Regions from separate parts of the Homo sapiens genome. Here regions 1 and 3 are each linked to region 2. Evidence: fine-mapped expression QTL. A gene starts in region 2. Each other region holds a variant in brackets. All regions are shown on one strand. Distances are between the middles of the regions. Region 1 overlaps HACE1 (HECT domain and ankyrin repeat containing E3 ubiquitin protein ligase 1). Region 2 holds the start of HACE1 (HECT domain and ankyrin repeat containing E3 ubiquitin protein ligase 1). Region 3 overlaps HACE1 (HECT domain and ankyrin repeat containing E3 ubiquitin protein ligase 1).

The links.
Region 1: its variant is fine-mapped to the expression of HACE1 in thyroid (GTEx, PIP 0.97).
Region 3: its variant is fine-mapped to the expression of HACE1 in whole blood (TOPMed, PIP 0.96). The same link has a PIP of 0.9 or more in blood mononuclear cells.

What each region holds. Positions count from the first base shown.
Region 1 is chr6:104,834,412-104,842,696 of GRCh38, forward strand. The region is part of intron 5 of HACE1 (HECT domain and ankyrin repeat containing E3 ubiquitin protein ligase 1); the gene reads right to left. Among named protein-coding and RNA genes, the nearest start is that of HACE1, 21 kb to the right of the region's middle. The variant T/C (reference allele first, on the strand shown) is at 3,464.
Region 2 is chr6:104,855,006-104,863,290 of GRCh38, forward strand. It overlaps HACE1 (HECT domain and ankyrin repeat containing E3 ubiquitin protein ligase 1), which reads right to left and starts at 4,914. Exons shown (of 24, transcript NM_020771.4): 1 at 4,562-4,914. The coding sequence starts at 4,637. It also overlaps the pseudogene LOC100422315. RefSeq lists a silencer at 4,343-4,972 and enhancers at 4,595-5,094, 4,709-5,003.
Region 3 is chr6:104,807,219-104,815,503 of GRCh38, forward strand. HACE1 (HECT domain and ankyrin repeat containing E3 ubiquitin protein ligase 1) reads right to left here. Exons shown (of 24, transcript NM_020771.4): 7 at 4,093-4,175. Among named protein-coding and RNA genes, the nearest start is that of HACE1, 49 kb to the right of the region's middle. The variant TA/T (reference allele first, on the strand shown) is at 4,902.

The DNA of each region.
Region 1 (8,285 bases), 21 kb before region 2:
ATATAAAACACCTATAAGTCTACCACTCAAAGATAATCAATGTTAAAACTCTGGACTATGCTATCCATTAATTTTTCACATGATTTTTTTTCATTAAAAAGAAAATCATGAAATCCCTGTTTTAAAATGGCAGGTTTAATCCATGCATCAGTCTCTACTTCTTCCCTAAACCCCACGGAAATGAGAGTAAAGAGTATTTCCTTAAAAGACTAGATCCATAAAGATACAGAGGAGAGAACAGCAAGTTTTGGAAGCAAAGAAAGTAGATGATGCTTTTTATCTTGTCAGATTATACTTGTTGACTTGTCAGAATGCTACACCAGTATTAGAGAAACCCCCCAAAAAATGTGATTCAGATCACAGGACTCCCAAAAGGCTCAAGAATCAATAGTAAGTACCATGCACCTCTTGAAAAGAGGTTGAAAGTTTATTTAATAAGATTTAGAGCCTCATATCTCTACCCCTCCCCAACTGTGCAAGGCCAGTAATGGCCCCCACTCAACCAGATAGAATGCAAGAGGCTTGAAAACAGTCTCTAGATAAGAGACAACAGGCACATTGAACAAAGAATACCACACTAAAAAGGGGAGATTAAGTGCAAGTTTAAATATTGAATATTGATTTTACAAAGCATTCTTCTCTATCCAGCACGCAGACTGTTAACATCTTCCGGGCAGTTGGAAGAGTCTTCTCTGAGGAATATGACCAGTTCAAGAGTAAATGCCTAAAGAAATCGACACTGGAAAGGTCTAAGAGGCAAATGTCCAAGGAGATCATCCTACACTGAAGCCTCTAGTGAACAAAGCCTCACTCATGCTGACAGCCTTCAAATAGCTTTTTCCATTTCCACCAAACATCTGATAAACGCATCTAATTTGAAAGACAAACTACAAATTTTTTTAAAGCAAAAAGTAGGGGGAAAAAGGAACCATGAATATTCAAGAAAAAACTATATTTAATACTGTCAGAGGGAGAACATACTGATTGCATCCCTGAAATGAGAAAAGGATACTATTTTTTGAAAGAGACAAGGAAAAAAAACTCTTGGAAATTAATACTATGATAGAGACGTGCAAACTCAAAACAAGAATTAGGAGATAATATTGAGGAAGTCTCCCTAAAAGTACAAAGAAAAGAAATGAGAAAAAGTAGGAAAATTAAAGGGCTAGTGTGAATAGGTCTAACATTTAAATAATAGGAGTTGGGGAAAAAATAAAACAGAGAAAAGACAGAAAAAGAAATCATGAAAGTAATAATTTATGAATATTTCTCATAAGTTCCTATTACATGAGTTTCCAGGTTGATAGGGTCTCAATATTATCCATCGAAATGGATAAAATAAATCCAAAGCAAGACATAATAATCACAGGATTTTAGAACACTAAGGACAAAGTAGATTCTATAAGTTTCTAGAGAGAAAAATCAAAACAGGTTTCATATAAAGAATCAAGAATCCAAATAGCACTAAACTTCAAAACAAAGCTAGAACACAACAAAGCAATGCTTTCAAAATTCTAAGGAAAAATGATGTCTTGTCTAGATTGTCAGCTAAACTGTCAATTACATAATCAGACTCAAAGACTCAAGTCATATCAAACATGCAAGGTGGCAACACATCTCCCATGCACACTCTCAGGAAACTCTCAGGGTTGTGCTCCATCAGAGTGACAGAATAGTTATCAGAAAAGATGGATATGAGACCCATATAACAAGAGAACCCAAAGCAAGAAAAAAGCAAAAGGAATCCCCAGATGATGAGACATTCCAAACAACTGTGCAGCAGACCTAGGTATCAACCAATCCAGCCAAGAGAGCACAGAAGTCTCCGTAAGAGACTCCTTCAAGACATAATCAAGCACATGAAAGGTACTGAATACATATTAAGAGGATATTTACAAAGCTGAGAGAGACCTTGGAATTGAATTAGTAAAAAGTTATAAGAAAACTTTAAAGTAATAAAGTTGCAGTAGGGCAAGAAACAAATACAAAAGACATACAAACTGCGAAGAAAGAAATAAAGGCCTGGCGCGGTGGCTCACACCTGTAATCCCAGCATTTTGGGAGGCCGAGGCGGGTGAATCACCGGAGGTCAGGAGTTCAAGACCAGCCTGGCCAACAAGGTGTAACCCCGTCTCTATTAAAAATACAAAAATCAGCTGGGCATGGTGGCACACACCTGTAATCCCAGCTACTAGGGTGGCTAAGGCAGGAGAATTGCTTGAATCCAGGAGGCAGAGGTTGCAGTGAGCTGAGATTGCGCCACTGCACTGTAGCCTGGGTGACAGAGTGAGACTCTGTCTAAATAAATAAATAAACAAATTACTGTCTCTACGTGCAGACAACATGACTGTCTATGTAGAAAATCTCAAGCAATTTGCCCAAAGTCCCCCAGAACTAATAAGTGAGTTCAGCAAGATTGCAAAACCAAAAACCAATTGCATTTCCATCTGAACATGCATAAACTCAAATTAAAAACACAAGGCCATTTATAATTATGCCAAAGAAAATGAAACAGTTATATGCTTACCAAAACATGCACAAAATCCCCACTGTGCTGTACAAAATTCTAATGAATAAAATCAAAGACCTAAGTAAGTGTGGAGATATACTGTGTTTATGGATTAAAAGACTCAATCAACACAGTAAAGATAACAATTCTCCCCAAATTGACCTATCAGTTTAAAGCAACTCCAATCAAAATCCCAGCAAGGTTTTTTTGTAGACACAGACAAGTTTATTCTAAAATTTATATGGAAAGGCAAAGGAATCAGAATGGCTAACACAATCTTGACAAAGTGAGAGGAATTATTCTACCTGGTATTAAGACTTACAGCTACAGTAATCGAGACAGTGTGGTATTAGCAGAGAGATTAGCAGAGACACACAGATCAGTGGAATGAATATAAAGTCCACAAGTGGGTCCACACAAATATGCCCAACTGATTTTTGAAACAGATGCAAAAGCAAATTCATGTAGGAAGGACAGCCTTTTCAACAAACAGTGCTAGTACTGGACATTCATAGGCAGAAAAAAAAGAGTAAACCTTGACCTAAGCCTCATAACTTATGCAAACAGTAACTCAAAAGAGATCATAGACTTAAATGTAAAACACAGAAACATAAAACTTGTAGAAAAAAATATATGAGACAATCTTCAGGAGTGAGTGCTAGGCAAAGAGTTCTTGATACCAAAAGCATGATCCATAATGCAAAAAACTGATCAATTTGACTTCAAAGTTAAAAAACTTTTGCTCTTCAAAAGACCCTCTTAACACCACTATTAGAAACAGTACTGGAAGACCTAGCTAGAGCAATCAGGCAAAAGAAAGAAATAACGGACATTCATATTAGAAAGAAAGATGTCAAATTATTCTTGTCTGCAGATGATATGATCTTGTATTTGGAAAAACTTAGACTCCACCAAAAAACTGTTAGAACTGGTAAATAAGTACGTTGCAAAATA[T/C]GAAATCAACATGCAAAAATCAGTAGCATTCTGATGTCAGCAGCAAACAACCTGAAAAAGAAGTAAAGAAAGTAATCCCATTTATGACAGCTACAAATAAAATAAAATACCTAGGAATCAACTTAACCAAAGAAGTGAAAGATGTCTAAAAGAAAACTATAGAAAAAGATGCAAGAAACTGAAGAAGACACACACACAAAATGGAAAAATATTCCTAAGGGTTGGAAGAATCAATACTGTCAAAATGTCCATACTACTCAAAGCAATCTATAGATTCAATGTAATCTCTATCAAAATACCAATGACATTCTTCACAGAAACAGAAAAGATAATTCTAAAATTTATATGGAATCACAAAAGATCTAGAATAGCAAAAGCCATCCTGAGTAAAAAGATCAAAACTGGAGGAATATCATTACCTGACTTCAAATCATACTACAGAGCTATAGTAACCAAAACAGCATGTTACTGGTATAAAAACAGACACACAGACCAATGGGACAGAACAGAGAACCCAGAAATAAATCCACACATCTACAGTGAACTCATTTTCTACAAAGGTGCCAAGAACACACATTGGAGGTAGGGACCATCTCTTCAATAAATGGTGCGGGAAAACTGGATATCCATACACAAAAAATGAAACTAGGCTCCTATATCTCTTGCCATATACAAAAATCAAACAAAAATTAATTAAAAACTTAAATCTAAGACATGAAACTACTAAAATAAAACACTGGGGAAACTCTCCAGGACATTGGTTTGGGCAAAGCTTTCTTGAGTAATACCCCTTGAGCAAATTTCTTGAGTAAATTTGCTTTTAAGTAAAAGCAAAAGTAACCAAAGCAAAAACGGACAAATAGGATCACTTCAAGTTAAAACACTTTTGCACAGGAAAGGAAAAAATCAACAAAGTAAAGAAACAACCCATAGAATGGGAGAAAATAACTGCAAACTATCCATCTGACAAGGGATTAATAACCAGAATATATAAGGAACTCAAACAACTCCATAGTAAAAAAAAAAAAAAAAAAAAAAAAAATTTTGATTAAAAAAAGAATGAAAGATCTGAGTAGACACTTCTCAAAAGTAGACATACAACTGGAAAACAGGTATATAAAAAGGTGCTCAACATCACTGATCATCAAAGAAATGCAAACCAAAACTACAATGAGGTATCATCTCACCCCTATTAAAATGGCTTATATCCAAAAGACAAGCAATAAGAAATGCTGGCAAGGATGTCAAGAAACAGGAACTATCATATGTTGTTGGTGGGAATGTGAATTAGTATAGCCACTACGGAAAACAACTGCATTCCTGGACATTTATCCCAATGTGTACCCTGCTGTTTTTAACAGCTTTACTCATAATAGCCTCAAACCAGAAGTGAACCAAATGTCTTTTAACAGGTGAACAGTCCAACAAATGGTGGTATATCCACTACTGGATGGAATACTATTCAGCATTATAAAGGAACAAACTATTGATAAGTATAACCTAGATAAGTCTCCAAGGAATGTGACAAACAAAAAAAGCCAATCCCCAAAGGTTCCATACAATATAGTTCTATCTCTGTAACATTCTTGAAATGACTAATGGAGAACAAATTAATGGTTGCTATAGGTTAGCCATGGGATGTGAAGGACAAAGGGAAAGGTATGGTTATAAAAGGGCAACATGACATATCTCTGTGGTGTTAGAAATGTTCAGAATATTGACTATGGTGGTGAAAACCTACCATGTACACAGGTAATAAAACTACACAGGTAACCTACACAAGTAATAAAAATGAATAGAACTTAAAATACATAAACATACACACACACATACAATTAAAACTGAGGAAGGCCAGGCATGGTGGCTCACACCTGTAATCCCAGCATTTTGGAAGGCCAAGGCGGGTAGATCACCTGAGGTCAGGAGCTCAAGACCAGCCTGGCCAACATCGTGAAACCCCATCTCTACTAAAAATGCAAAAATTAGCTGGGCATGGTGACGCACACCTGTGGTCCCAGCTACTCGGGAGACTGAGGCAGGAGAATTGCTTGAACCCAGGAGGCGGAGGTTGCAGTGAGCTGAGATTGCACTACTGCACTCTAGCCTGGGCAACAGAGCGAGACTCTGTCTCAAAAAAATAAAATAAAATAAAACTGAGGAAATCTCAGTAAGACAGATTGTATCAATGTCCATGTCCTTACTGTAATATTATAGTATAGTTTTGCAAAATGTTACCACTGGAGGAAACTCGGCAAAAAGTGCAGGGCAACTCTCTCTCTCTATTATTTCTTAGCACTGCATGTGAATCTACAATTATCTTAATTTCTAAAAAAAGACAATCATTAACTACAGGGAAAATAAAATGTTATGCAAGAAAGGAAAGCAACTATAACCAACTATTTGGCTTAACTATGAATAGTTTTCGTGTACTCAAAAAAATAATAACACACAAAAATGATCTAACTAAAATTACAATAATTGTATTGGAGGGATACAAGGCTAATGTGCTTATACACCACAGGGCGGGAGGAGGGGCTGAAAAAGAGAACAATAGCCTCATCTTCCAGAAAGTCAACAGGTGATACCTAAAACCAAAAAACCAGGAAGTAGCATTTAGCATGCTATTTAGATATAGAGACAACATTTTAAAATCCATTAAAATAGCTGAGAGAGGCCCGTCGCGGTGGCTCACACCTGTAATCCGAGCACTTTGGGTAGCCAAGGCGGGTGGATCACCTGAGGTCAGGAGTTCGAGATCAGCCTAGCTAACCTGGTAAAACCCCGTCTCTATTAAAAATACAAAAAAAGGCTGGGCGCGGTGGCTCACACCTGTAATCCCAGCACTTTGGGAGGCCAAGGCGGGCAGATCACCTGAGGTCAGGAGTTCAAGACCAGCCTGACCAACATGGAGAAACCCCGTCTCTACTAAAAATACAAAATTAGCTGGGCGTGGTGGCACATGCCTGAAATCCCAGCTACTCAGGAGGCTGAAGCAGGAGAATTGCTTGAACCCGGTAAGTGGAGGGTGCAGTGAGCCAAGACAGCACCATTGCACTCCAGCCTGGGCAACAAGAGTGAAACTCTGTCTCAAAAAATATTAGCTGGGCATGGTAGCAGGCGCCTATATTCCCAGCTACTCGGGAGGCTGAGGCAGGAGAATCACTTGAACCCGGGAGGTGGAAGTTGCAGTGAGCTGGGATTGCGCCATTGCACTCCAGCCTGGGCAACAGTGAGACTCTGTCTCAAAAAAAAAAAAAAAAATAGCTGAGAGAAGTTGTTTAGGGAGTGGGAAGTTTGGAGGTTGGGGAGGAAGGCCAAGAGACTGTTTTCTACAAGCCAGGTAGAATATTTGATTCTTTAAATACATACATGAATAATTTTGTTAAATAAAAATTTTATTTTTACAAATTTTCTATTCCACCTCCCTTAAAGTACAGGAAGGAAGGGAAGAAATTAACAGAAAACATCTTATGCAATTAAAACAGATTATATTAACATTCAACCATCATGCCTAAACTGGTTAGTGTCCTAAGGAAAGATCTATGTCATTTCTAGGGTTTCATAACCCTCTGTTGCACGTACCGTGTCACTAAGCATCCTACGGATATTCAGAATACAGTCTTTCCTTACAGAATAGGTGGTATTATATTATTAATACATAACAAAATCTGAATTTTTACAGGAATTGTAGATTCCATATAATAATCATGATTGAGTTTATTCTATAATAAGCCATTCAAAATTTTAGGAAAGTTGTTTTTCTATACCTCATTCCCCAATTTTTAATCATAAAGGCCTTGAAAACCAGCATGGTAAGTAAATATTCAATATTATTCTTTATTCAAAAATTAAAAGATTCAAAATATAAATACTATCAAAGGAATGTATAATTTAATAAATAAAACTTAACATTTTCTGCCATGATTTCAAAACAACTACTCAACAGTAACATAATTCTATGTTATCTCTACTTCTAAAATTAATAATGCTCCATTAAATAATGACAATTTGGTTAAAACTTTGGGATTTCAACAATCTCTTCAGCAATATCCCATACCACCTCCATGTGATTCAAAAATACATAAACTTATTTTTGCAAAGAAAGTGGTATGGCAAAATGGCCAATACTACTTTATATAAAATATAAGTCTAATAACAGGACAAAATGTTAACAGTAATTTTATCTTTGGGATGCAGAAGTGAAAGGATTGCTTGAGGCCAAGAGTTCAAGACTAGCCTGGGCATCAAAGCAGGACCCCACCTCTACAAAAAAATATAAAATATACTAGCCAAGGGTAGTGAGACACACCTATAGTCCCAGCTACTTGGAAGGATGATGCTGGATGATTTCTTGAGCCCAAGAGTTTGAGGTTGCAGTGAGCTATGATCATGCCACTACACTGCAGCCTGGGTGACAGTGAGACCCTGTCTCTAAAAAAAGGTTTTATTGGCCGGGCACAGCAGCTCACACCTGTAATCCTAGCACTTTGGGAGGCCGGCGGGTGGATCACCTGAGGTCAGGAGTTCAAGACCAGCCTGGCCAACGTGGTGAAACCCCGTCTCTACTGAAAATACAAAAGTTTTTTTTTTTTTTAACCGTGATTATCTCAGAGTGCAAGGAATACAGGGAGTGCTCATTCCCTCTGTTACCTTTTTTATTCCTTTCTGACTAGCTATCTAATTCTACAATGAACATATTAAAAGTATTTAAAAGAACATAACGAAAAACAGCTCTCCAAGAATGAACACATAACACACCTCAGCAGAGATGCTCCTAGGAAGTCCCTTAAAAGTCAGTGACAAAGGCTAGGGGAATAAGCTT
Region 2 (8,285 bases):
GCATGTATCATTGCTTTTCTCCTCACAACCACCCTATGAAGTAGGTACTATTATCCTCATTTTACAAATGAGAAAACTGAAGTACTAGTTAAGTAACAAGCTGTGTAACAGTGGCATTATGTGGCTGATTCCAGAGCCTCTACAAATAATATATCCTGGCTGGGTGCAGTGGCTCACGCCTGTAATCCCAGCACTTTGGGAGGCCAAGTCAGGCAGATCACAAGGTCAGGAGATCAAGACCATCCTGGCTAACAAGGTGAAACCCCATCTCTACTAAAAATACAAAAATTAGCCGGGTATGGTGGCAGGCACCTGTAGTTCCAGCTACTCGGGAGGTCGAGGTAGGAGAATGGCGTGAACCCAGGAGGCAGAGCTTGCAATGAGCCGAGATCATGCCACTGCACTCTAGCCTGGGCAACAGAGCGAGACTCCATCTCGGAAAAAAAAATAAAAAATAAAGATAAAAAATAAAAAGATAATATATCCTACAATGCACCCAGTATATACCACATAACCAGAAGGTCTACAATAGAATACTATTCTTAATATGTAAAATAGACTCTGTTTTATCCTCTTATATTTCTTTTTTTAAATGCTGACTGCAACCCACTAATTGCTCTCAGAAACTACCAATGAGTCACCACCAGGAGTTGAAAATACTACACTAAGCCTCCCTTGGCATGACAACATTCTTTATCGTTCATATAATAATACATGTCCCAATAAAAATCTGAACTTCTAAACCATGAGAATTTCCATTAAGTCACCCCATAATAAAGTCATAAAAAACACTGTTATTTGTGGGTTTAAACTTAAATCAAGATAAACTTTAAATCAAGATAGTGCATAATTTTAAGTGAGCGTTAGTGAGCATAATAAGGTTCACAATGGTTGTACTTGTAAGGTTTTTATTTTTTAGATAAAAATTAGATTTACATCTTAAGTCACATCTAACCTAAAGAAAAAAGTAGGTCACATACATTAACAGGTAAGTATGAAGAAATAAATCTAACCACAACTGTGGTGCTAGAAGAAGACTATCCAAGAAATACTATACTAAGAAAGGACAGAATACAATTTGTTGCCAGATACTTCCTTGTCTACTCTTGAAGACACCTTCAGGATTAGGTATATAATTAAAGTCTCCAGGGTGACAAGAAAAGTTTAATCTATCACTTTATTAGACATGTTTGCCATTTTTATCACTACAGTTTCAAAACCCAACTGTTAACAAAAAAAAGGTGCTCAGAGTAATTAATTATATACAATTTCTCTTCAAACCATCACATGGAGTAATTTTTTTAAACACAATTATCCCAATCACATATGCTAAAATGGGCTCAAATTTTATTATTTTATTAAACAAACTGCATTCACTATATAGTAGTTCAAACTTTACATACACTAACAACATACACCTTCCTTTTATTTATGTGTTTTTTTTTTGAGACTGAGTTTCGCTCTTGATGTCCAGGCTGGAATGCAGTGGCGCGATCTTGGCTCACTGCAACCTCCGCCTCCCAGGTTCAAGCAATTCTCCTGCCTCAGCCTCCCAAGTAGCTGGGATTACAGGCACCCGCCACCACATCCAGCTAATTTTTTGTATTTTTAGTAGAGCCGGGGGTTCACCATGTTAGCCAGCTGGTCTCACACTCCTGACCTCAGGTGATCCACCCACGTCGGCCTCCCAAAGTGCTGGGATTACAGGTGTGAGCCACTGCGCCCGGCCTCCAACTTTTAAACACTACTAAGAATCCATATCCCTAAAGTAATTTCTTACTCTTCACCTCTTTTTCTCTCAAGAATATTCCTGTGTTAGGCCTGCCTAGGAGGACTCAACTACCTGCACTCCATTACTTAGGGTAATACTCAGGTTTTCATCATCTCAAGGAAACATAGCATCCAACTCAGTTTATCAAACATCTATAGTTTCAACCTTTGCAACAAAATTAATTTTAGAGTACAAGCTGACTAAAAAGTTTACAAGTTTAATAGTTTGTTGTAATTAGATGCTTATTGATTACTGAATTCTAACAAAGCAAAAAAAATCTGATTATTTTCTAAATTTAGAGAGATCTCAGAGTTTCCATTCAGCTCTTAAAATGTAAGCACAAATGTGGATTTGTATCAGTAGGAATGTTATATATATATTTACATATATATATTTATTTACATATATATTTACATATATATTTACATATATATATATATATTCCTATATGTATGATATACTTTAAAGAGCCAAGCTCAGAGAATTCAAAGACTCATCAGAGCTTAGAGACAAAGATAAATTAAATTCAAGGAACAAAATGAACATTATAATCAAAGAAAAGCAAATGCAAACGATGCCATTTTTGCCTATGTGGAAAAGTTTTACTTTTACTAATAATACTCTAGTTTCTGGGCACTCTCGGACTGCTGGTGGAACTTTCCAAGGAGTAAGTTGAGAAACTGATATGTTGAGCCTTAGAAATGTATTGTAGATATTCTTCTTGTAAGAATTAACCCTAAGGAAGTATTTAGAGGCAGACTATGTCTTAAATACAAAGCTGTTTCTCATAAAATCAGTTTAAAAACAGTATTTAGATTCAACATTTGTTACATGCATCCTATGAAATTCTGAAGTCATTAAGCCTATTGAAGAATACAAAAAAAAAAAAACATTTGGGGCGGGGCACGGTGGCTCACGCCTGTAATCCCCCAGCACTTTGGGAGGCCGAGGCGGGCAGATCACGAGGTCAGGCGATCGAGACCATCCTAGCTAACACGGTGAAACCCCGTCTCTACTAAAAATACAAAAAATTAGCCGGGCCTGGTGGCAGGGGCCTGTAGTCCCAACTACTGGGAAGGCTGAGGCAGGAGAATAGCGTGAACCCCGGAGGCAGAGCTTGCAGTGAGTCGAGATGGCGCCACTGCACTCCAGCCTGGGCGACAGAGTGAGACTCCGTCTCAAAAAAAAAAAAAAAAAAGGATGTTTTCTAAACACAAAATAAAAGACTATATGCAACATGATTTTAACTTGTTAGGGAGGGAAAAAGAAATAACAATGGTAACACTGTTTATAACTGGATGGTGAAATGACATATTTTTTTCTATTTTTCTTTATTTTCCAAATTTTCTACAATGAAACTATATTACTTTTAAAACCAAGTAACATTATCAAAGTCTTCTAAATCACATTTATGTAAAAAATATCGGGATTCAAACTAGACAATATAAATTATACATGTAGTCTTCATAAAGCTATACCAATAATTCGACTACGAAAAATAAGTAAGAGTAGCACTTAAGAAATGGATTCAAAGGTGGAAGTTGGAAAGAAAATATAGAAAAAGTTGAAGCTAGAATCTAGTTACCAAAATCTGAATTCTAAATAGAGACTAGAGACCATTTTTTCAAGAAGATTATCCCCAGGCCAGGCGCGGTGGCTCACATCTGTAATCCCAACACTTTGGGGGGAGCAGGGTGCGGATCACTTGAGCCCAGGAGTTCAAGACCAGCCTGGGGAACATAGTGAGACCTCATCTCTATAAAAGAAAGGAAAGAAAATTATCGCCAAAGTACCCAATCCCACATTTCTTTCATGACCGTCTGCCAAGGTCTCCTTCCCTATCCTACAAACCACCCAGCAGCAATTCAAAGAGAGTTTTGAAAAAGTAAGATAAACTACTACAATTAAGAAAAAAGCTATTCACCAGCTACAACCTCCTCCCAACCCTTCTCTCACTTGGGCATAAAGAGCCAAAAGCTTCTTAGAAGCAGCACTGCTGTCTCCCATCACCACTAAAATGTCTGAATTCCTGACGCTGCAAACAAAACTGCTTATTTTCTCTCCTTGTTATTAGCAGAGTTTTACCTGTCCTGAGGGAACCCTGGCACGCTGAACTAAAAGTCCTGATCCTCAGGGACCATGCCTTATTCCTCTTTGCAGATGCGTCCTAGTTACCAGCTAGCCCACTCAATACTAGTCTGATGAATAAATGAAGAATGAAGGCAGGCATGCATATTAAAGAAAAATATATTGTGTTTACCCATACAGTACTTTAAGAGTACCTGTTTGATGTTTGACAACCCTTTGTTTGCCTGTTATCAAAACAAGGCAGTGCCCCACATTTTAAAAAATAACAAAAATAAAAGCCCGCCTGGCCCCCCGATGCAGCTTAAAGTAAACAGTATCTTTGGATCATCTCTATCCCCAGCTACTGTTAAATGACCCGCAATTATGATGTTTTCTGACTCCGGGTCTCGGGCCTCCGGCTGGTATTCCTGCCCCTTTGCCAAGACCCCTAATCGACAGACGTTGCGAGACCTTTGTCTCGCTCCTCCCAGCAGCGGAACCCCCACCAACCCAGTTTCCTCCCGAAAACTCCCACCTGCCGGGGTGGGAGCGTCGGGCCAGGGGAGTTCGGGGCCCGGGGCCGCCTCTCAGCTCTGGAAAGTAAAAGTGGGCGTTTTCTCAGCTTTCAGTTAGTTTTTCCACCCGACCTTGACGCGGCCGGAGCTCCTGCCCCACTGGCCGCCCCCAGCCCCGCGGCCAGCCTGGCCCCGCGACCCGGCTCACCCTCGGGCAACTCCACGGTGCGCGCGCGGCGCAGCGAGCGCGTCAGGCGGTTGAGTTGCTCCATCGCTCTCTCCATCCTCGGCGCGCCCTCCGCGATCCTCCGCGATCAGCCGCCCCACCGGCGGCCTCCGCGCCCAGAGCCCTACATCTCGCCTGGGCCCGTCCAGCAGGCGGAGACGCGGGCTTGCCCCGGCTAGAGCACTGAGCTGCGAGGGCTGCCTGGGGCCACGTCCTGCGTCCGGGGGCCGGGCTGCTGCCGGACCGACCACCTACAGTACACCCGCCGCCGCCTCTGCTCGCGCCTTTCCTGCAGCCCCCGCCGCCGCGTCCCTCCCGGGCTCGCGTGGCCTTCTGGGAACTGTAGTTTCCAGCTGGCAGAACGGAGCGCCCTGGGCGGAGTCACGTTGGGGGCGCCCAGGCCACGCCAACGCGGGCGCAGGGCTGAGTATGCGGGAAGCCACGCAGCGACTGGGCGTACTCCTAAGCTTCTGGAAAGGCATTCTCACGCCCTGCTCCTCCTACCCTCCTCCAAAGTTGTACAGGAGCAGTTTCCTCCAATTCTATAACTTTACTATAAAACAGATTAGAAATTGGCACAATTGTTCTTAAATCCGTCACCACCTTTCTAGTACTGTATTAGTGCCTTTGTTTCAGGTACCCTACATGAACTGTTTTAAGTATGGTATTTTCATATGTCAAACTTAAAGAGTAATAAAATCAAACAAATCCAAAAGCATATTGTGCTTTTGTCTTCATTGTAAATAACTTGACAATAGCTTAATTAGTTGTTTTTCCTGCCGGGCGGCTTTATGAGGGCAGGGACATTTAATCTTGAACTGTGTTGTATCCCTGTACTTAACAAGGCACCTAGCACAAAGTTAAAGCTCTGGGGAAGATATGAATGATGACAACCTGAAAAAATTTTTTCATTTATTTGGTACAATGCTAAAGTGTCTATGTGATGACACAGCCTAGTGGGAAATCCAAAGGATTTGACTTTGTAAGTTACAAAAAATTTGGATACCTACATTGTGGAAGAAATGAACTCAGTGGCGAAAAATCATATTCATAAGCTCTGCACAGAAGTTGAACACTTGAAACAACAGAAGTTGGAACTTCAAAAAATTAACCCAATCAAAGGGGTAAATGTGAGCCTGGCTAACACCAATATATCTTGGATATATTACCAGTGCCAAGATGATGCTGGAGTGAGGGAGAAACAAAAGGCTTGTCTTTTTCAGCTTCTCTTCCTCAAAGAGACAAAGCTGTTCCTGAAATGAATGGGCACATGTACGTTGATGATGTATGTTGGCTGGCCAAGTGAAAGAGAGTCTCACCTGCCCATTCAGGATATGAAGGGGCAGATGGTGGTTGGCATGTGTTTTCCCTGCCAGTGCCGTCCTAAATCAGTTCCAGCTAGTGACCATTTGTGCCAGTGGTGCCACAGGCACGGGGAAGACCTCTGTAATCTTCACCTAATCAGATGATACCTAAACCAGTCTGGCAACAAGGTGGTAGAGGTCAAAGTTTCAAAAGAATACCAGAGGCTGGGCGCAGTGGCTCATGCCTGTAATCCCAGCACTTTGTGAGGCCAAGGCAGGCGGATCACTTGAGGTCAGGAGTTTGAGACCAGCCTGGCCAACATGGTAAAACCCTGTCTCTACTAAAAATATGTATATACAAAAATTAGCCGGGCGTGGTGGTGTGCCTCTGAAATCCCAGCTACTCGGGAGGCTTAGGCAGGAGAATCGCTTGAACCCGAGAGACAGAGGCTGCAGTGAGCTGAGATCCTGCCATTGCACTCCAGCCTGGGTGACAGAGCGAGACCCTGTCTCAAAAAAAAAGGAAAGGAAGAAAGAAATACCAGACGTTATGGACCAGTCTAGCCCAGGCTCAACCATTTGCAACCTGGCTTCAACTAAAAATGTTCCAGTCTTGCTTGGCCTCTTATGCTATTCAAAAAGTCAGGATTCCCACTGCTGTACAGAAGTTGGCCCCTCAGCTTCTCTCAGCTGCTGTTATCACCATTGCTCTCTAGGCTGTTGCTCCATATAAATTACCTCCAACGTCCTGTGAGGACCAAGCCTGGAGTTTGTGGGCAGGGGTAGGAGCCCCCAGCAGCCTCCATGGTGGGCATTGCATCTCATGCTGGTCACTGTTCACCACAGGAGCAGAAGATAATGGAACAGGTAATGCTGATGTGAATTGTCAGTTCCAAATTCTGCAATATGATGCCGTCTCCCAATAGCTCTGCTTCAAAATGTATAAAGCTGCAGTACTACTATCAGCTTATCACCTCCTGTCCAACAGAACTTTCTGCAATGATAGAAATATTCTATAATCTGCAATGTCCAAAATAGCATCCACTAACCAAATGGGGTTACTGGGTGCTTGAAATGTGGCTGGTGCAACTGAATTTTAAATTTGTATTAAAGTATAAGTAATGAAACTAATTAAGTTAAATAGCTGTATGTGCCTTGTGGTTACCGTATTAGACAGGGCAACTTATCACACCAAGAAGAAAGCTGCCCAGGAGAACACCAAAACAGCTAAACAGCTTCTTATAGATTATTATTAGCTAAAGAGTAGATTTTCTCACCTGTCACCAACACCAAAAACATCAAGTGGAAGTTTCAAAAGGGCACTTTGTATCATAAGTTCCATTAACAAAAGCGTAGAGTTTTTCACTAATGATAACCCAGGTTCTTCTGTGGCCCAGACAGTTTCAACTTTCTTTTTTGTATATCTGGTATTTTTTTCTTCCTGGAAATTGGTTTTATTGAAGATTCCCAAGCATTAAGGGAAAGAGAAGAGAAAAACAATCTGTTCAACAAAAGGCAGGAAATGGGTGGGAAGCAAAGAAAAATGGTCATAAAAACAAAACATAAAGTAGCAGTAGAAATAAATCTAAATATATCCATGGTCACAGAAAATATAAACAGAGTAAACTCAATGTTTACTCTAAAACATAGAGGTCTTAGATAGTGTGTTAAAGAAAAATAAAAATGGAGGCCACAGTTTAGATATACCCAAGTCCAACTGTGTATAACCACAAACCAAAACTCATCATCCTCATTTCCCCAAAACACCATCTGTAATAATAAACACAAAACGCAAGGTTTATATCCTTGTCAGCATGATTCAGTGAAACTAAGCCAATCAGCTATAGACAAATCAGCTTAAATAGTTTCCCTAAAAAAATTAATGTATAACAGACAATCATGAAAAAAGGCCAAAGTACTTCATCTTTACGCTTTATAAACTGTACGGGAAATGCAGTAAGGCAAGCTTCTCAACACTGACTCAAAATATCCTGGATCGCAATTTGTACTTGATCTGATTTATTTCTTACATCTGAAAAGATCAAATAAAACAGCTATTTGCTGTTTCTAAGGGACCACCATTTCCAAAAGGAAATGGAAAAAAGGGATACCATAGAAAATATTAGCCAAATAAATGTGATATAAAAATATATCAGGGTTCTCTAGAGAAACAGAACCAGTAGAATGTGTGTATATATATGGAGAGAGAAAGAGATTTATTATCAGAAATTGACTCACGTGATTATGGAAGCTAGCAAATCCAAAATCTACAGTTTGGACCAGCGGTCTCAATACCCAAGAGACCTGATGATGCCATTCCAGTCAAAGGCCAGGGCAGCTAGTAAGACAGATGAAGTCTGGAGGCAGTCTGCTGAAAAATTCCCTCTTGCTGTTTCTTCTAT
Region 3 (8,285 bases), 48 kb before region 2:
TCACCATGTTGGCCAGGATGGTCTCAATCTCTTGACCTCGTGATCCACCCGCCTCAGCCTCCCAAAGTGCTGGGATTACAGGTGTGAGCCACTGTGCCTGGCCAAGTCTAAGAACTCTTTTATATGGCTACTTTGATTTTGAATACTCTAACTGAAACGAGTTGCTTCGCAGTAGCTACAAATCCATGTTCTAAATCTTAGCCCTTTCTGTCTCTAGTAGAGACCTCTAAAACTCCATTAACATCTTACTAATTTACTGTATCTATACAACTCTAACTAAACCTTGCTTTTCCTAATAGAATAAAAGTTATCTACAAACAGAAAATACCTGAAAACCATTATACATCCCAACCTTTATTTGAAGAACTCAGTTGAAGGAACTGAGAACATAAGGATTGAATATAAAACCAATCTAATAATTTCAGGATTTGAAATATTGGTAGAAGTCATATAAAAGACTTAAAGGTGTGTAAAGATGGCAGGGGGAAAAAAAAATCAATGTGTGCCTATATTTTACATGACAGAAGGAATGAGTTAATTAGTTATATAGTTTACATGAGTTATAATGTCCTGTCCAGAGTATCCAGAGAAGAAAACTGGCTGGAAAACCCTTTCTATCATAATTTTAGGTCAAAATCCATCTGAAAAAGACTCACAGAAACACTACATTATAAAACAGTGCCCAGGGCCAGGCACGGTGGCTCACGTCTGTAATCCCAGCACTTTGGGAGGATGAGACAGCCAGATCACCTGAGGTCGGGAGTTCGAGACCAGCCCAGGCAACATGGCAAAACGCCATCTCTACTAAAATATAAAAATTAGCTGGGTGTGGTGGCGCATGCCTGTAATGCCAGCTACTCGGGAGGCAGAGGCAGGAGAATCGCTTGAAGCCAGGAGGCAGAGATTGCAGTGAGCCAAGATCACGCCACTGCACTCCACCCTGGGCAACAGATTGAGGCTCTGTCTCAAAAATTAAAAAAAAAAAAAGTGCTTAGAATTAGACAAGAAACAAAAGAAAACCCTGTAGAGCAATTAAATTAAATGAGGACAACACGACTTTATGCTCACTGAAGAGTGAAAGAAGTATGTCAGAACTTAGTGAGCACCTATCAACTACTAAGTGTTGAATACTCTGCAGCATGCTTTATAGAAGCCATCACATTTAATCTTCACAATAATCTCACCAGGCAGATATCAGCACTTCCATTTCACAAACAAACAAAGCTTCAGGGATCAAGAATTTTGACTAATGTTGTATAGCTCTGGTGCTGGGATTTGAACCTGCCTACACAAACTAGGTTCTTTCCCCTGTATCTTAATACCATTCTAAATTTAATTGCAAAATTCAAATACAAAGAAAACAGTTTCAGTAGTTGACCCTTGAATATGATATAATATATTATATCTAGTAATACTTATCAACCAATAAAAACTATACATTCCATTTAACCTTTATCTTAGAGCCCTATAATTTGTCCTGGGGTTAACTTGTTCTATTTCCTATATTCCTTTCCCTTTCATTTATCAGAAATAACACATTGGGAATAACTTATATTTTTAATTTATACCTGTATCAAGATATCACAAGTAAAATTAAAAGTGTGCCTGCAGAAGAACCATGTTCCATATCTATTATTCTTCTACAACAATGATTTTTTGGTTTCACATTTCATCACAGACTTGCTTAACCATCTTTGTTCAAAAAGATCTAATATTTGCTAGATTAAAACTAAATGATGGGAATACAGTACTAGGAGAAAGTATTTCTTAAAAATCCTTCTGCCATATCCCTAAGCTCAGACTAACCATAGGGATATCCCAGTTCTGCACAACACTAACATGTCTCTATTTTAACTATTATAAATGGCATTGTTTTTTATAAGATATTTTTCATAGTGATGCATTCATTCAAAAACATCTACTATGCATCTAAGTGCAAAACACTGTACTACACTTTGGACATAAAGTGGTAAAATAAACACTATTCTTGCTTTCACTGAATTTTTAGGCATGTAGGGGAGACAGACTATAAGAAAGTAAATAAACAACTACAGAATAGGAAGTGCTATGAAGGAAATGACTGTGATACTGCGATCAAAAATCTGGGGAACGACCTGCTTAGATTGGTCAGGAACTGCCTTCCTAAAAAGTTACTTAATTAAGCAGTAACATGAATAAGAAATAGCCCTGTAAAAAGCCTAAGGAAGAACATTTCAGGCAAAACAAATACCATGTAGAAAAGCCTGCTGAAAGAGTTGGTTGCATTTAAGGAACGCAAAGAGAATCACTGTGGTTCAAGTACAGTGAGCTAAACAGGAGTGAAATCATGGAGGTCTCACAGGCCAAGGTAGAACTTGAATTATATTTAAAATGTAACAACGAGGCACTGAAAAGTTTTATATACAAGGCTTAAACACAAAGTAACAAGAGCAGATTCTTTTTTTTTTTTTTTTTTAAGATCACTTTGCTGAGGAAAGAAGAGATTGGAGGGAAACAACATAGGAATCAGGGAGACCAGTGAAGAGATTACTGCAGTACTCTAGGCAAAAGGTAACAACATTAAGGTGGTTTTGGTTGAGTTAGAAGTTCAGATTCCGAACATATTCTGAAGGTAGAATTTACAGAACTTACTAATAAATTCCAAGTTCACAAAGAGAGAGAGAGAGAAATAAAAAATAACCTAATTATTTCTAATTTAAACAACTGAGACAATAAGGTTTCTATTGATTAAGATGAGGAAAAACTGGGGGAAAGGTTTGAGGAAGAAAATCTGAAGCTGTATTTTGACATGTTAATATGTGAGATTCTGTGGTACTTCTAAGTGATGATGTTAAACAGGCAGATGGACATTCAAATCTGGAGGTTCAAAAAAGGTCTGATCTAAAGATAACCCTTCAAGATACAACATGATTACAGGGAATCAAATGATGATATTATTCATAAATTCAGGACACTATGGAAAGAACTGGTTTTCTAGCCAAGCAACCAAATCATAAATATAATGCAAGAAAATGGCTGGAATCAGAAAGATCTGGAAGTCTAGAAACCCAGAAGCCCCTGAATTCTAATACAGGGTTGTTAAATAGATGATCTGAATTGGTCTCATCAAAGGCACATCAGAGACCCCAACAAGAAGCTAAACAAGAAAAAAAGCAGGTCTTTCAACCTAAAACCAACTTCCAATAAAATGATATAAAACAGAAAAAAAGAAGAAGAGAGGAGCTTTCTGGAGAGCTCTATATCGGAATATGAAGGCCTAAATAAATATTACAATTCATATAATTTAAATCAAAAAGAAGAATTACTATAGTATTCTATAACTACATTTACATAATACATAATATGTAGGTGTGTATATATTTTTACATATGTGTGTGGGTGTGGGTGTGACGGCATGTGTATAATTATACTGATAGCTCCTTAGGGAATAGAGTTTATTTATTACTGTATTACACACCTACAACAATGCATGACACAGTGAGCGTTAACTAAACATTTGCCGAATACATGAATAAGTGAACAAAATGTACACGTCAAGAAAATGAACCAATAAAGAAATACAAAAATAACTTAATGTATAACAATATCTAACAAGACTGACTCAAGATTTTTTTTTGGTTATAGATACAGAGAAAGAAAAGACATGGCTCTGGATCAAGATATATTCCAACAGCTTATCCCACTGGAAATGACCTGGTTACATAACACAGTAAACGATGGGAATTACCAGATTACTGATTTATCTTTTGTTAATAAGTACTTAGTCTAAAATTGAAGTAATCAAGCAAATCAAAAGCTCCACATGTAACATAAAAGCAATGGCAATTAAATATAACAGAAAATACTTTTCCTCATACAGTTAAGTAATAGAACCATAACACTTCATCTTAAAAAAGAGATTGTACTTCCTCTTAAAAGACAGCATATTTGTGGGAAAACAAGAGAGCTTTAGAAAATACACAGAAACGTGTGTGTCTAGAAATAGAGTATTATATACATCTGGAAATATATATATTTCTTTATTTATACATATATATATATATATATATATATATGAGCATATATAGCATCTGGAAATATAAAATATCATACCTGCAAGCAAAGTACAATGGAGTTGCTCCTGATACATTTGGCCTGTTAATATCAGCACCACTGTCTAGCAAGCACTGCACTGTCTGAGGGGGAAAAAATAATTAAAAGTAAAGCCAGAGGAATCAAACAAAAGATACAATTACCACAATTTTAATCCATATAAGGGAAGTTCTTCCCACAACTTGAAGCTTTACATAGGAACTGAGTGGGCACGTGACAATTACTATGGCTGAGCAAATTCAACTTTTTGTAAGCTCTAAGTGTCTCAGGCACAACACACATATATGTGGAATTATCAGTGTAATAGAAACTGTGTTAATCTGGGAGTCTTTAGAGCAGCACTGTATCAAAAGTAGTCAGTAGTTACATATTGGCTACCAAGTACTTGAAATGTGGCTAGTACAGCTAAGGAACTAAAATTTTAATTGTATTTAATTATAGCTCATTTGAATCTAAATAGCCACATGTGGCTAGTGAATTGGACCCTATTGCTTTAGATACTTGAATTTAAATTGCTTTAAATACCAGAATTTTTCACCTCTAAAAAACTAAGCACCAGAATAATAACTTTCCCAAAGTCAAGAGCATAATTATTAAAATATAAAATTTTAAAAAGCTAAGAAGCCCTTTTGCTATTAACAGTAGCATATACAGGCTCAATTTCACTGATTGCCATTAATATATACTTAGCCCCCTAAGCTCTACTCCTCTAATCATTTGACTCATACTAAGAGAGAGTACGCTACTATAAAATCTTAAAAATACATATCTGTTGATTAAGGACAGGACAGGGCCCAGTTGAAAACCTT[TA/T]AAAAAAAAAACTTTCATGGTTTTATTCCTAAAATCCTCATTTGAGTTTTTCCTGCAAAAAGGAAGAAAATGTAAAAACATAAAACATGAGGCAATAGGTGGCTTGAGGCCAGTAGTTTGAGACCAGTTTAGTCTACATAGTGAGACCCCATTTTTACAAAAACATTAAAAAATGAGCTAGTCATGGCAGCACATCATAGTAGTAGGCCTAGCTACTCAGGAGGCTGAGGTGGGAGGATCATTTGAGCCCAGGAGTTCAAGGCTACTATGAATTATATTACACCACTGCACTCCAGCTTGGGCAACAGAGAAAGACCCCATGCCTTAAAAAAAAACAAAATAGTTTGAAATTAGACGCTTATTACTTCTGGATTGAACACATCTGTTCATCTTTTTTGCCGCTTTTAAACAAAGTACAATGTCAGTAAAATAATAAAACTAAACACCCAAAGGAAGAACAAGAAAGAAAACAACAGCATACTGGATAAGTCAGTAAGTTTTGGAAAGATAGCAAGCAAATGGAGAAATAGTAACTGACTTAGCAGATCAAAGAAAGCTGAAGTCTAACTGCCCACAAATGGGGATTCCAACAATAAGCAACTCAATTCTTACTACAGAACACACACATTAAGAAAACAAAAAAGGAATAGAGGAATTGGAAGTACCAGGTACCTTGGAATATAGGAATGGTTATGTAGAGCTAAAAATAGGAGGAATAGTTGAAAGTCAATAGAAGAAACAGACTCTCCCCCTAGGACCTTTCTTCCCATCCTATCCAGTTAGTTACTATCCCTCTTTACACTGTCTCAGAAGATGGGAAGTTTATTCTCTGCACAAAGTGAACAGGGAGGCTCTGGACTGGGAGACAAGACACACAGGTAGAGCAAAGATGAGGAGCCATCGTGAAAACAACAAATTAAGTGAAAACCTCCAGCCTCCATGTTCCAACTAGGCTCCCAGAAATCCAGCAGGCAGGCTTAAAAATCTCAAGTAGAAGGAATTAAAAGCTTCCTCTCAAGACTTGCATCAGAAAAGAATCTTACAGATATTGGCATTAGAAAGTCCCCAGTGAAACAGCTCAGTTCATCCAGACATGGTGGCTCATGCCTGTAATTCTAAGACTTTGGAAAACCAAGGTGGAAAGATCATTTAAGGCCAGGAGTTCAAGACCAGCCTAGGCAATTTAGAGAGATCCCATTTCCACAACAAAATTTTAAAATTAGCCATGCATGGTGCTGCATGCAAGACGCTATCTGTAAAGCAAGACCCTATCTCTAAAAAGAAACAAAAATTAAAAATAAAGAAACAGCCCAATTCGGGACAATGGGTCTATAGCAGTCATCCCCAACCAAGGTTAAATTTTCCCCTGGGAACATGAGGCAACTTTTTTATTTTCATGACCAGGGAAGGGAAAATGCTATTGGCAGCTAGTGGGTAGAGGTCAGGGATGCAGCTAAATATCCTAAAATTCAGATGACAGCCCCCACAACAAAGAATTATCAGATCCAAAATATCAACAGTGTTGAGACCAAGAAACATTGGTGTACAGTCAAACCAAGTAGTCAACAAACTCAACTCATGTACACAACGCTTCCAGCCAACATTTGAGTGCCTCACCATTACACATGAATGAACAGACAATATTAAAAATACAACTGAAGCAGGCCTCTAACCTGAAAAACAAAAATTACAACTGAAAAATGAAACTCAGAATAACAAAGACAGTAAAGGGAACCAAAGAAAACAACAAAAATTAGAAAAGTAACTGATAACCTCGAACAGAAAAGAAATTATACCATGGAATGATAAAAGGATGTTGGGTAGAAAATATTTAGGAAATGAGAAATCAAAAATACAATGCAATAAATAAAAATTCAACAGAAGTTTAAAAAGAAAATGTTCAGGAATTCTACAAAGTAGAATAAAAAGACAAAGTAGAAAATAGGAAAGATGAGAAAATTTGTGAATCAATCAAGGGAGACATACTGCAGAAAATAAGAATAAAGAAAAGAAAGGGGGTGAGGGACCAAAGGGGAATAACCAAGAAATAATACCAAAAAAGTTCCCAGAACTGAAAGACATCAGGTGCCAGGTTTAAAAGGCTCAACACGTGTCTAGTCTATTAAATCAAAAGACCTTCAACGAGGCATGTCAAAGTGAAATTTCATGATAACATCAGGGATAAGAGATTCCAGAGATAAACAGAAATCATGTGGGCATTAAAACTTCTCAACAGCAACACAGAAATCTAAAAGGTAAAAAGCCTTCAAAATTGTAAGATAAATTATATGCAGAATTCTATAGCCAACTACACTATTATTCAAATAGATGGTTATAAATAAAAAACATGTTTAACTATTTTATAAGATTTTTTAAATTATCTTCAATGCACCTTTTCTCAAGAAGCTACTGAAGCATATCCTCCTCCAAAGAAAGAGAATAAACCATAATAGAAGATATGGAATCTAGAATATGGAGATCAAACATGGGAGAGACACTAAGATTATTTCTAGGTTTAGAGGGTGATATGGGTTGGATTTGTGTCCCTGCCAAAATCTCCTGTTGAATTGGAGGAGGGACCTGGTGAGAGGTGACCAGAGCATGGGAGCAGATTTCCCCCTTGCTGCTCTCATGAGAGCTCATGGTTTAAAAGTGTGTGGCACATCCCCCCTCACGCTCTTTCTCCCTCTCTCCTGCCACCATCTGAAGAAGATGCTTGCTTCCCCCTTTGCCTTCCACCATGATTGTAAGTTTCCTGAGGCCTCACAGTCATGCTTCCTGTTAAGCCAGCAGAACTCTGAGTCAATTAAACATCTTTTCTTCACAAATTACTCAGTCTCAAGTAGTTCTTTATATCAGTGTGAAAAATTGACTAATATAGAAAATCAGTACCAGGAGTGGGACACTCCTATAAAGACACTTGAAAATGTGGAAGCGACTTTGGAACTGGGTAAGGGGCAGAGGTTGGAACAGTTTGGAGGGCTCTGAAGAAGACAGTAAGATGTGGGAAAGTTTGGAACTTCCCAGAGACTTGTTGAATGGTTTTGATCAAACTGCTGATAGTGATATGGACAATGACGTCCAGGCTGAGGTGATCTCAGATGGAGATGAGGAACTTATTGGCAACTGGAGTAAAGATCACTCTTGCTATGCTTTAGCAAAAAGAAACTGGAAGCATTTTGCCCCTGCCCTAGAGATCTGTGAAACTTTAAACTTGAAAGAGATGAATTAGGGTATCTGGTGGAAGAAATTTTTTTTTTTTTTTGACACAAAGTCTCACTCTGTCTCCTAGGCTGGAGTGTAATGGCATGATCTCAACTCACTGCAACCTCCACCTCCCAGGTTCCAGTGATTCTCCCGCCTCCCAGGTAGCTGGGATTATA